Linked DNA regions of Homo sapiens. The protein of the gene in region 2 purifies or fractionates together with the protein of the main gene of each other region. This does not show direct contact. Each region holds a gene or a part of one and is shown on either strand. Other genes may lie near its edges.

Evidence for each region.
Region 1: the proteins of ARID1B (region 2) and AGPS purify together in Homo sapiens (affinity purification with mass spectrometry, with the first as the bait; one large-scale study listed by BioGRID). This does not show direct contact.
Region 3: the proteins of ARID1B (region 2) and ZNF207 purify together in Homo sapiens (affinity purification with mass spectrometry; one large-scale study listed by BioGRID and IntAct). This does not show direct contact.

What each region holds. Positions count from the first base shown.
Region 1 is NC_000002.12:177,493,577-177,497,310, reverse strand, and holds part of AGPS (alkyldihydroxyacetonephosphate synthase, peroxisomal precursor), read right to left. Parts: intron 1-3,734. UniProt on the Homo sapiens protein: Catalyzes the exchange of the acyl chain in acyl-dihydroxyacetonephosphate (acyl-DHAP) for a long chain fatty alcohol, yielding the first ether linked intermediate, i.e. alkyl-dihydroxyacetonephosphate (alkyl-DHAP), in the pathway of ether lipid biosynthesis.
Region 2 is NC_000006.12:157,207,378-157,211,211, forward strand, and holds the end of ARID1B (AT-rich interactive domain-containing protein 1B), read left to right. Parts: coding exon 1-514; 3' UTR 515-3,402; downstream 3,403-3,834. UniProt on the Homo sapiens protein: Involved in transcriptional activation and repression of select genes by chromatin remodeling (alteration of DNA-nucleosome topology).
Region 3 is NC_000017.11:32,370,657-32,374,156, reverse strand, and holds part of ZNF207 (BUB3-interacting and GLEBS motif-containing protein ZNF207), read right to left. Parts: 3' UTR 1-3,500. UniProt on the Homo sapiens protein: Kinetochore- and microtubule-binding protein that plays a key role in spindle assembly. ZNF207/BuGZ is mainly composed of disordered low-complexity regions and undergoes phase transition or coacervation to form temperature-dependent liquid droplets.

The DNA.
Region 1 (3,734 bases), on a different chromosome or scaffold from region 2:
ACTTTTTTTTTTAATTATATAGAAACTATTCAGAACTATCCAAATATGGAGTTAATGCCAAGTTTAAGGTTGTTTCTTAATTAATTGTTAATTCATCCAGAATTCTTGGCATAAAACTAGCAATTGCTTCCTTAATCACACCCGGAGAGTTAAAATTGCCAAAATAACATAAATGGAGTCTCAAAGTCTGTTAAATTAACATCTTTGCCTGCAGATTAAGCTTAATTGAGTGAAAACCTTTTACTGTTTTCTCACTTTTCAGAAAGTAGTAACGACTCAACTCCTATGATTGCTACATTTAAGAGTCATGCATCTGGCCTCAGTGTTAGCAGCCCAATTCAGAAAAAGGTGTCATACCATTTATACAAAATTTTTATAAAGAATTTCAGTCTTAAGTAAGTCAAAATTATCTCCAAATAAAAAGTTTTCTTTTTTAAAAAAGCCTTTAAGGTTTGGGGATTTTGTTTGTTTTTAAAGTGTAGGCCCTTCCTTTCCTTCTTTTAAAATAGGTGCAAAGAGCAAACTAGCTGTTTCTAAAACTATCACTGGTAGTTTTTTTCTATCCATTTTTTATAAGAATCTCAATCTGTAATACTACTTACTACATTTTTGCTGATTATAATAGGAAACTGTGTTACATAAAAGACCAAGTAATAGAAGTCTTAACCAGAGGCTAAGAATTAGATATCTATGCTATACCTGAGGCATTAAAAAACAACAACAAAGAAACAAACTGAACTGCAGGTTAGATAGAGATCAACCTAGCAATCTTTTTGAGCTCCTGGATCACAAGTAAGAGATACGCTTGGGGATTTTTTTCTTTTATTTTAAACTATCAGAGATGCTTCCTAGTATAACTAGCGCTTTAAGAGACAATTTCTAATATCTATAAAGATAGAAATAACGTATCATCAAAACATTCATTTCTGGTCCCAAATGGAACTCATCCTATATTAACAACAATTAGAAATACATATATAAACATTTATATATTGAATGTGCATGTTGTGTTCTTGGCAGAAGTTGAAATTATCTATTCTTTATACAAAAGATTCACTTATCTTTATACAATGCATGCGGACTCCATATGATACTACTCTGATATGAAATAATCCTTAAGGGTAAATGTTCACTTAACTCATCGAGATTTATATGCACAATTTCCATTAATGCTAGTAGAATTACTCACATACATCTGTGATACTAAGGTGACATGATAGCTTTGAAGAATAAATTATTGTAAAAGTGATACTGACTTTTAGGTGGGTCAAGCATTAGTATCAACTAGATAATATTATCTTTTACTTTTTCTTAAATATGTTGCCTAACAATATAATTACATTTTAAATATATTCTAGCTATTGTGGGTTTGTTTTTTTTTTTTTTTTTTTTTGAGACAGAGTCTCACTGTGTCACCCAGGCTGGAGAGTAGTGGTGTGATCTCGGCTCACAGCAACCTCTGCCTCCCCGGTTCAAGCAATTCTCCTGCCTCAGCCTCCCGAGTAGCTGGGACTACAGGTGCTCGCCAACATGCCCAGCTAATTTTTGTATTTTTTTTTTTTTTTAGTAGAGACAGGGTTTCACCATGTTGGCCAGGCTAGTCTCAAACTCCTGACTTCAGGTGATCCGCCTGCCTTGGCCTCCCAAAGTGCTGGGATTACAGGCGTGAGGCACTGCACCCAGCTGCTATTGTGGTTTTTTAAAATATTAAACTCACTTCCAAATTTACTAGCTGGACAGTTTGATCAGTGAATTTTCTGTTATTTCAATGTTAATCGTGTCATTTAACAGGATTTATTAATTATCTATATTTTAAAGCAGTGGTTACAGACAGTGCAAAAACTCCTGGGCTTTGTAGTCAGACAAATCTGGGTTCATCCCTAGCTCTACCACGTATGATTTGTGGACCGTAGTCAAAATAATGAGTCTTTGAGTCATTTGTAAAGTGGGGATACCACTCTGACGAACAGTCATGAATAGAATTTTATAAAGTGTGCTATTGACAATGTAATCAGCACTATGCCATCTAGGATTTGTTCACCCCCTTGCCAATTTGATGATTAATTGAATCAACATATAAATGCCTATTACGTGATAAGTGCAGGTGATAGAAAAATGACTAAGAAACATACCCTAAATTCGAGAAACTTTGGTTTATAGAGGACATCTTTGGATTATTTCAATATACACAATGATATATATCATTTCAATATACTAAAATTAGATAATGTCAATATAATGTATTAAGAGTTGTACCTGAAGTAGAGATTATATTAAAAATATTAACAACTAATAATATGGCATGTGCTTTGTTAACAACCAATGTGGTATAAACACCGACCAATCAGCCATACGGTTAGTGCAGGGTCTGGGGCACCTTTTGTTGTGCTAAGCATTATTTCCTCTTTTGCTTGATCATGAAGCCATGGCAGGATATATTAATGTAAAGGCTTCAATTAAAATTGAGAAATAAAAAAGGTTATATAGACAGCCAAAAAGCATGATCAGATCTGTATTTCAAAAGGATCACTTTGGTGGCTAAGTAAAGGGCAGAGAGAGGGGAGACACAGTAAAGACTAGAGAAGGTAGAACCTATAATACCACAGACAGGAGCAAGCTAGAGGGGAGCAAGTAAGTATGTTTTCAGGTATAGTAATGAGAACATGGAAGAGGGATGACAGGAAGACTTTCTTTAAACCTTCACTTTAAATTGTTATGGACTCCAATTATAAATAAGTATGGCCAAATCATAACTAATTTTACAAATGCCTAGGTCTAACATTGTTTACAACAACAATAACATATAAACGAATAACACAGTCTTATTAATTAGATGCATGGCTCTCTTTAAGACCTAGATCTTTAAATGCAGGCCAAAACACACAAGTGGTTTTTCACTTGATTTAAGTATTTCATTACTTATAGAACATATTTATCTTAAACTTTTGTCAGTAGTATAGTATTTTGAAAGTAATTTACTTAAAGAAATAAACAATTATGACTAACTTAGAAGAATGTAATTTTAAAACTCTTAATATGTTACGAACCTGACTTTAGTTAAGTTTCTATGTAACTATAACCATGCTTCCCTAAATTAAAATCTCAGCTTACTTTTAGACATGACAAAAGCCTGCCTATCTTTGCCTTTAGTATTTATTACTGAACGATCACTCTCATGATTTTAGGAATTGTTTTGAGGGTATTTAAATTCTATAAACTTAAATCCCAAAGTAAATTTCACAATATAACTACAACCCATTATCATATCTTTTTCCCAAGACCACCACCCATTCTTCTATGTTATTTAATCTACCCAATCAAATCAGTCTAGGTGTTGTCTTCAACTCCTCCTTTTATTTAGCCTTCCACATCCAGTTAGCAAACTGATTTTCTGAAAATCTATCATCCGTTCTCTATCTCCATTGCTGCTGCCATGCTCAAAGCCCTCAAACTTTGCTTCTTGAGCTGTTTCATCTCCTAGTGTCTCTCCTCCATGCATGTACCCTTCTAATCTATCCTGCACAATGCTGCCAGAATGAGCTAAGATGTAAAGTTGATTGATTTTATTCTTCAAAGAAATCCCACTGCTGACAAGACAAAATCCAAATCTATCCTGCAAAGCCCTAGCCCACCCAACCAACTTTATCTCATGTAACAACTCTAACCCCACCCTCTATTTGAGCCACATAGAACAATTTGAAGTCCCCTAACACACATCATTGAGTTTCACACCT
Region 2 (3,834 bases):
GAGACTTGTGCTGGAGACCCTCTGTAAACTCAGTATCCAGGACAATAATGTGGACCTGATCTTGGCCACTCCTCCATTTAGTCGTCAGGAGAAATTCTATGCTACATTAGTTAGGTACGTTGGGGATCGCAAAAACCCAGTCTGTCGAGAAATGTCCATGGCGCTTTTATCGAACCTTGCCCAAGGGGACGCACTAGCAGCAAGGGCCATAGCTGTGCAGAAAGGAAGCATTGGAAACTTGATAAGCTTCCTAGAGGATGGGGTCACGATGGCCCAGTACCAGCAGAGCCAGCACAACCTCATGCACATGCAGCCCCCGCCCCTGGAACCACCTAGCGTAGACATGATGTGCAGGGCGGCCAAGGCTTTGCTAGCCATGGCCAGAGTGGACGAAAACCGCTCGGAATTCCTTTTGCACGAGGGCCGGTTGCTGGATATCTCGATATCAGCTGTCCTGAACTCTCTGGTTGCATCTGTCATCTGTGATGTACTGTTTCAGATTGGGCAGTTATGACATAAGTGAGAAGGCAAGCATGTGTGAGTGAAGATTAGAGGGTCACATATAACTGGCTGTTTTCTGTTCTTGTTTATCCAGCGTAGGAAGAAGGAAAAGAAAATCTTTGCTCCTCTGCCCCATTCACTATTTACCAATTGGGAATTAAAGAAATAATTAATTTGAACAGTTATGAAATTAATATTTGCTGTCTGTGTGTATAAGTACATCCTTTGGGGTTTTTTTTTTCTCTTTTTTTTAACCAAAGTTGCTGTCTAGTGCATTCAAAGGTCACTTTTTGTTCTTCACAGATCTTTTTAATGTTCTTTCCCATGTTGTATTGCATTTTTGGGGGAAGCAAATTGACTTTAAAGAAAAAAGTTGTGGCAAAAGATGCTAAGATGCGAAAATTTCACCACACTGAGTCAAAAAGGTGAAAAATTATCCATTTCCTATGCGTTTTACTCCTCAGAGAATGAAAAAAACTGCATCCCATCACCCAAAGTTCTGTGCAATAGAAATTTCTACAGATACAGGTATAGGGGCTCAAGGAGGTATGTCGGTCAGTAGTCAAAACTATGAAATGATACTGGTTTCTCCACAGGAATATGGTTCCATTAGGCTGGGAGCAAAAACAATGTTTTTTAAGATTGAGAATACATACCTGACAACGATCCGGAAACTGCTCCTCACCACTCCCGTCATGCCTGCTGTCGGCGTTTGACCTTCCACGTGACAGTTCTTCACAATTCCTTTCATCATTTTTTAAATATTTTTTTTACTGCCTATGGGCTGTGATGTATATAGAAGTTGTACATTAAACATACCCTCATTTTTTTCTTTTCTTTTTTTTTTTTTTTTTTAGTACAAAGTTTTAGTTTCTTTTTCATGATGTGGTAACTACGAAGTGATGGTAGATTTAAATAATTTTTTATTTTTATTTTATATATTTTTTCATTAGGGCCATATCTCCAAAAAAAGAAAGAAAAAATACAAAAAACAAAAACAAAAAAAAAAGAGGGTAATGTACAAGTTTCTGTATGTATAAAGTCATGCTCGATTTCAGGAGAGCAGCTGATCACAATTTGCTTCATGAATCAAGGTGTGGAAATGGTTATATATGGATTGATTTAGAAAATGGTTACCAGTACAGTCAAAAAAGAGAAAATGAAAAAAATACAACTAAAAGGAAGAAACACAACTTCAAAGATTTTTCAGTGATGAGAATCCACATTTGTATTTCAAGATAATGTAGTTTAAAAAAAAAAAAAAGAAAAAAACTTGATGTAAATTCCTCCTTTTCCTCTGGCTTAATGAATATCATTTATTCAGTATAAAATCTTTATATGTTCCACATGTTAAGAATAAATGTACATTAAATCTTGTTAAGCACTGTGATGGGTGTTCTTGAATACTGTTCTAGTTTCCTTAAAGTGGTTTCCTAGTAATCAAGTTATTTACAAGAAATAGGGGAATGCAGCAGTGTATTCACATTATAAAACCCTACATTTGGAAGAGACCTTTAGGGGTTACCTACTTTAGAGTGGGGAGCAACAGTTTGATTTTCTCAAATTACTTAGCTAATTAGTCTTTCTTTGAAGCAATTAACTCTAACGACATTGAGGTATGATCATTTTCAGTATTTATGGGAGGTGGCTGCTGACCCACTTGAGGTGAGATCTCAGAAGCTTAACTGGCCTGAAAATGTAACATTCTGCCTTTTACTAACTCCATCTTAGTTTAATCAAAGTTCAATCTATTCCTTGTTTCTTCTGTGTGCCTCAGAGTTATTTTGCATTTAGTTTACTCCACCGTGTATAATATTTATACTGTGCAATGTTAAAAAAGAATCTGTTATATTGTATGTGGTGTACATAGTGCAAAGTGATGATTTCTATTTCAGGGCATATTATGGTTCTCATATTCCTTCCTACCTGGTGCACAGTAGCTTTTTAATACTAGTCACTTCTAATTTAAACTTTCTCTTCCTGGGTCATTGACTGTTACTGTGTAATAATCGATTTCTTTGAAACTGCTGCATAATTATGCTGTTAGTGGACCTCTACCTCTTCTCTTCCCTCTCCCAATCACAGTATACTCAGAATCCCCAGCCCCTCGCATACATTGTGTCGGTTCACATTACTCACAGTAATATATGGAAGAGTTAGACAAGAACATGCAGTTACAGTCATTGTGAGACGTGACTCTCCAGTGTCACGAGGAAAAAAATCATCTTTTCTGCAAACAGTCTCTCATCTGTCAACTCCCACATTACTGAGTCAAACAGTCTTCTTACATAACAATGCAACCAAATATATGTTGAATTAAAGACCCATTTATAATTCTGCTTTAAATACATCTGCTTGCTAAGAACAGATTTCAGTGCTCCAAGCTTCAAATATGGAGATTTGTAAGAGGGAATTCAATATTATTCTAATTTCTCTCTTACAGAGTACAAATAAAAGGTGTATACAAACTCCGAACATATCCAGTATTCCAATTCCTTTGTCAATCAGAAGAGTAAAATAATTAACAAAAGACTGTTGTTATGGTTTGCATTGTAACCGATACGCAGAGTCTGACCGTTGGGCAACAAGTTTTTCTATCCTGATGCGCAACACAGTCTCTAGAGACTAATCCAGGAAGACTTTAGCCTCCTTTCCATATTCTCACCCCCGAATCAAGATTTACAGAAGCCCACGAAGAATTTACAGCCTGCTTGAGATCATCTTGCCTATAAACTGAGTTATTGCTTTGTCCTAAAAATTAGTCGGTTTTTTTTTTTCTATGAGGCTTTTCAGAAATTTACAGGATGCCCAGACTTTACATGTGTACCAAAAAAAAAAAAAAGATAAAAAATAAAGGTGCAAAGAAAGTTTAGTATTTTGGAATGGTGCTATAAAGTTGAATCTGTTGGTATTTGAGTGGATTTTTTTAATGTCACATAAGAGATACTGGGCGGCGTCTGCTCAGCAATAGCTATTCACAGTGTTTTGTTCGAGGAAGAGAATGATATAGAAGCATGTTTTACTGATGAAGGTGGCCTGTTCAAAGACTAGTTAAGCTGTTTTTTCAGAGTTATAATGAAGAATGATTTTTTTAAGGGCATATGGGCAGTCTCATACAATGTAAGCTATTAACTACCTCCTTTATGAAAAGAAGCCAGCCTTTGCCCTGAAGTCCATCCATTTAAAACTGTTGGAAATCTTTCATTTCCTATCAAACCACATGTACCTGTTCCCATGTCTGTTCACCTTTGAGGAAGCAAAGAAAGTATTATAAATGAGCCACAAATGGACAGTGCAAACAGTCCCTGTTCTTCTTGCTGAGTGTTGGTTCAC
Region 3 (3,500 bases), on a different chromosome or scaffold from region 2:
AGGCTGAGATGGGTGGATCACCTGAGGTCAGGAGTTTGAGACCAGCCTGGCCAACACGGCAAAACCCCATCCCTACTGAAAAATATTGAAAAAATAGCCAGATGTGGTGGCGGGAGCCTATAATCCCAGCTACTCGGGAGGCTGAGGCAGGAGAATCACTTGAATCCGGGAGGCAGAGGTTGCAGTGAACCGAGATCGCACCACTGCACTCCATCCTGGGTGATAAGAGTGAAACTCCGTCTCAAAAAAGAGAAGGCACATTTCAGTATCCAGTGGCATTTCCAATGATTAAACTTATCCTTGAGGTTAAATTTAATAGTTTATGGAGAAAATAAAACCAGTAAGATTTTCCTAGAAGTGAAAGTAAAAAACTTGAATGAAACATTTCTTGCCTCCAATCAAAAATATCAAATTTTGTCAATTTATTGAAGTTCAATATAGGAACACAAGCTTTACTGAAGCTGTTAATTATGTAACACACAGCAAATTACATAAAATTGCATATGAAATACTTATGTTTATTAACACCACAGTCAAACGTGAATATTAATATAGAGCCTTCTCTGCCAAAAGAGTATAAAAATCCTAAGTTTAATTAAATTTAGGGGCCTTCACCAAACTTGCTGCAAGTTTGGGGACATAAATATCCAACAGCCATAAAGCTGTGAAAGCCCCTATAAGGAATAAAATAAATCCCACTTGCCTCAGACTGAACAGGGCAACACTGAGACTCAGCCTCAGCCTGTCCTATGGCAGGGCTATAGGAAGAAGAAAATTTTAATTTTAGAAAAACAGTTCCCAATTAATTTAAAAGACATGCATTAAAATTTTTTTTTTTAAAAATCCCAATGATCAAGCAAGCAAAAGGAGCAGCTTTGTTTTTAACTATTGTCCACTACAATTCCACTCTGAGCCCGTACTTCTTTTTGTTGGGGAATCCCCCTCCCCAATTAATTAAGTTTAATTAAGGTGAGTCTAAGTTCAAAATGTAACTTAGTGGAATAGGAGTACAGTAGGAATATTTTATTCATACCTAATGGCAAATGTGTGAGACACTACTAAAATACTAAGTATTCAAATCAAGTAATTCCAGCAGCCACTCAAAAATTAATCCTTACCTGCTGTGGTCTTGTTAAACAGTATGAAAACTTATACAACAGAAACTAGTGCCAGACAAAATGTTTTCTTGTTTTTCTAAAAGGGGTGGATGTAAGGTAGAGCCAAAGTTGCCAGCCCTACTAACCTTACAGCTTCCTTAATTATGACAATCACAATGCCTGCCTGAATTATCAAGTCCCAAAAGTTGTCTTCTGTGAGGGCAGTTGGCATCCACTTTGACTCAACTTCATCTACTACTTAAGGAAGGTTGAGTCAGAGTTAATTATATGAATATAATTTGCTCCACTCATAATTCAACCACACTATGGACCCCAGAAGCATTTAGAAAAAAGGTATTTTCTAGAAGCTTAATTACGTTTGGATGCATGCAAAAATTACACTTCAAATATATTAAATGGGTACACCACCTCTGAGCCTATAGCTACAAACTCAGGAACTCATGAGCTTAAGTTTTATCTGCCAATGCCTAACACTTTCAATTAATTTTTAATTAGAATTCTATCCCATATTTAAAAGTTCCATTTTTGCCCATCAGACCTATACAGAGAGCAAAAAACCTTGCTACAAAGTATCAACCTTCTTTGCATAAAATGCAAATAAAGCTTCACATAATTTCTGAAACAGGTCTACTAACCCTATTGCAGTTTGTCAATAACCGTATACATGAAATTCCTGAGAATTTGGGAGAGCACCCCTTACTTAATTATTCTAAATTTAATCACAGCATTTTTTTTTTTTGAGACGGAGTCTCAATCTGTCGTCCAGGCTAGAGTGCAGTGGTGTGATCTCCGCTCACTGCAAGCTATGCCTCCCGGGTTCACGCCATTCTCCTGCCTCGGTCTCCAGAGTAGTTGGGACTACAGGCATCCGCAACTACGCCCAGCTAATTTTTTGTATTTTTAGTAGAAACGGGGTTTCACCGTGTTAGCCAGGATGGTCTCCATCTCCTGACCTCATGATCCACCCGCCTGGGCCTCCCAAAGTGCTGGGATTACAGGCGTGAGCCACTGCGCCCGGCCTATCACACCATTTTTATCTTAAAGACTTTCAACACAAGTTTTCCTTCAGCAGTATATTAAGTGTGCTGCCAAATCAAAGCAGCATGTATTAATTTTGAAACCATTTAGGTAAGCAGAGGTTCAGAGGGGAAAGTGGTTTGGGACTTGGCTGCTGGCAGAAAGAAATACATTACTGGCAAAATACCTGTTTTATTTTCAAACTATGAAAATTTTTGTACCACTATGGTACCACAAGCACAGGAGCCAAAATCATTGAAGCCAGATAATCAGATATTTTAATTTATTTTTTGACAGAGTCTCGCTCTGTTGCCCAGGCTGGAGTGAACATAGCTCACCGCAGCCTCGGAAGGAGGAAGAACCTCCTTCCTCAGCCTCTTGAGCAGCTGGGACCACAGACACACACTAACGCGCCTGGCTAATTTTTAAATGTTTTGTACAGATGGGGTTTTGCCATGTTGGCCAGGCTGGTCTCAAACTCCTGGACTCAAGCAATCCTCCCATCTCAGCCTTCCAGAGGGCTGGGATTACAGGCGTGAGCCACTGCACCCAGCCAATGTGAGTTAAAATAGCATTCAGCTTTATAATACTTGCAATGTTTTGCTTAAAGGTATGACTTTCATCTGTCACATAAATACGAACTCTTTTGTGATGGCTAAATCACTTTTCAATATATTTTCCTTCAAAGTTAAAGCCCTTTTTTCCATACAACTTCAGACTTCATGTGTTTTATCTATACCTTCACAGGAAAGTTATAAAGAAATGTTACCATTTTCTTAGAAGTCTTAACTTTATAATGAGAAAAACTCAACTTGAGTTCATTATATTAATACTTTGCATAGGTTATTTGATGCCTAAAAAATCATAAAACTACCCTGCAAAAGATCAGAAAAACAGATCCCAAAAAGGTCAACAAGAGCTATTATTTTAAGAGGTTGCAACACAAAATATTGAATAGCAGTCATCTCTACAGAAAAGCTCTCTGTAAGAACACAACATTCAAAATTTCCAAGGATAAATAAAAAGTTGCACAGTAAGGCTACCTAGGCTTAATAACAGAAGGTACTCAAATGAATAATGTAATCTTCCAGGAACATAATAAAAATTGCCAATTCATCTGTTAACCATCCCAACAGAGACACATTTAGATTCTCAGCATTACACTTAGAATAATATATAATAACCCATTAACAGCACAAGAAGCTATTACTGCATGCACCTAAGCTTCTAGAAGTTTGCACCTGAAAAGCTTCTGAGGTCCATGCAGTACTGAGTCTCAAAAATAATCAAAAGGAAATGAATGGGTCTGGCACTAGGCTCTAAACATCTCAGCAGGAAGGAAAAGTGTTAACATTTACATTTTAA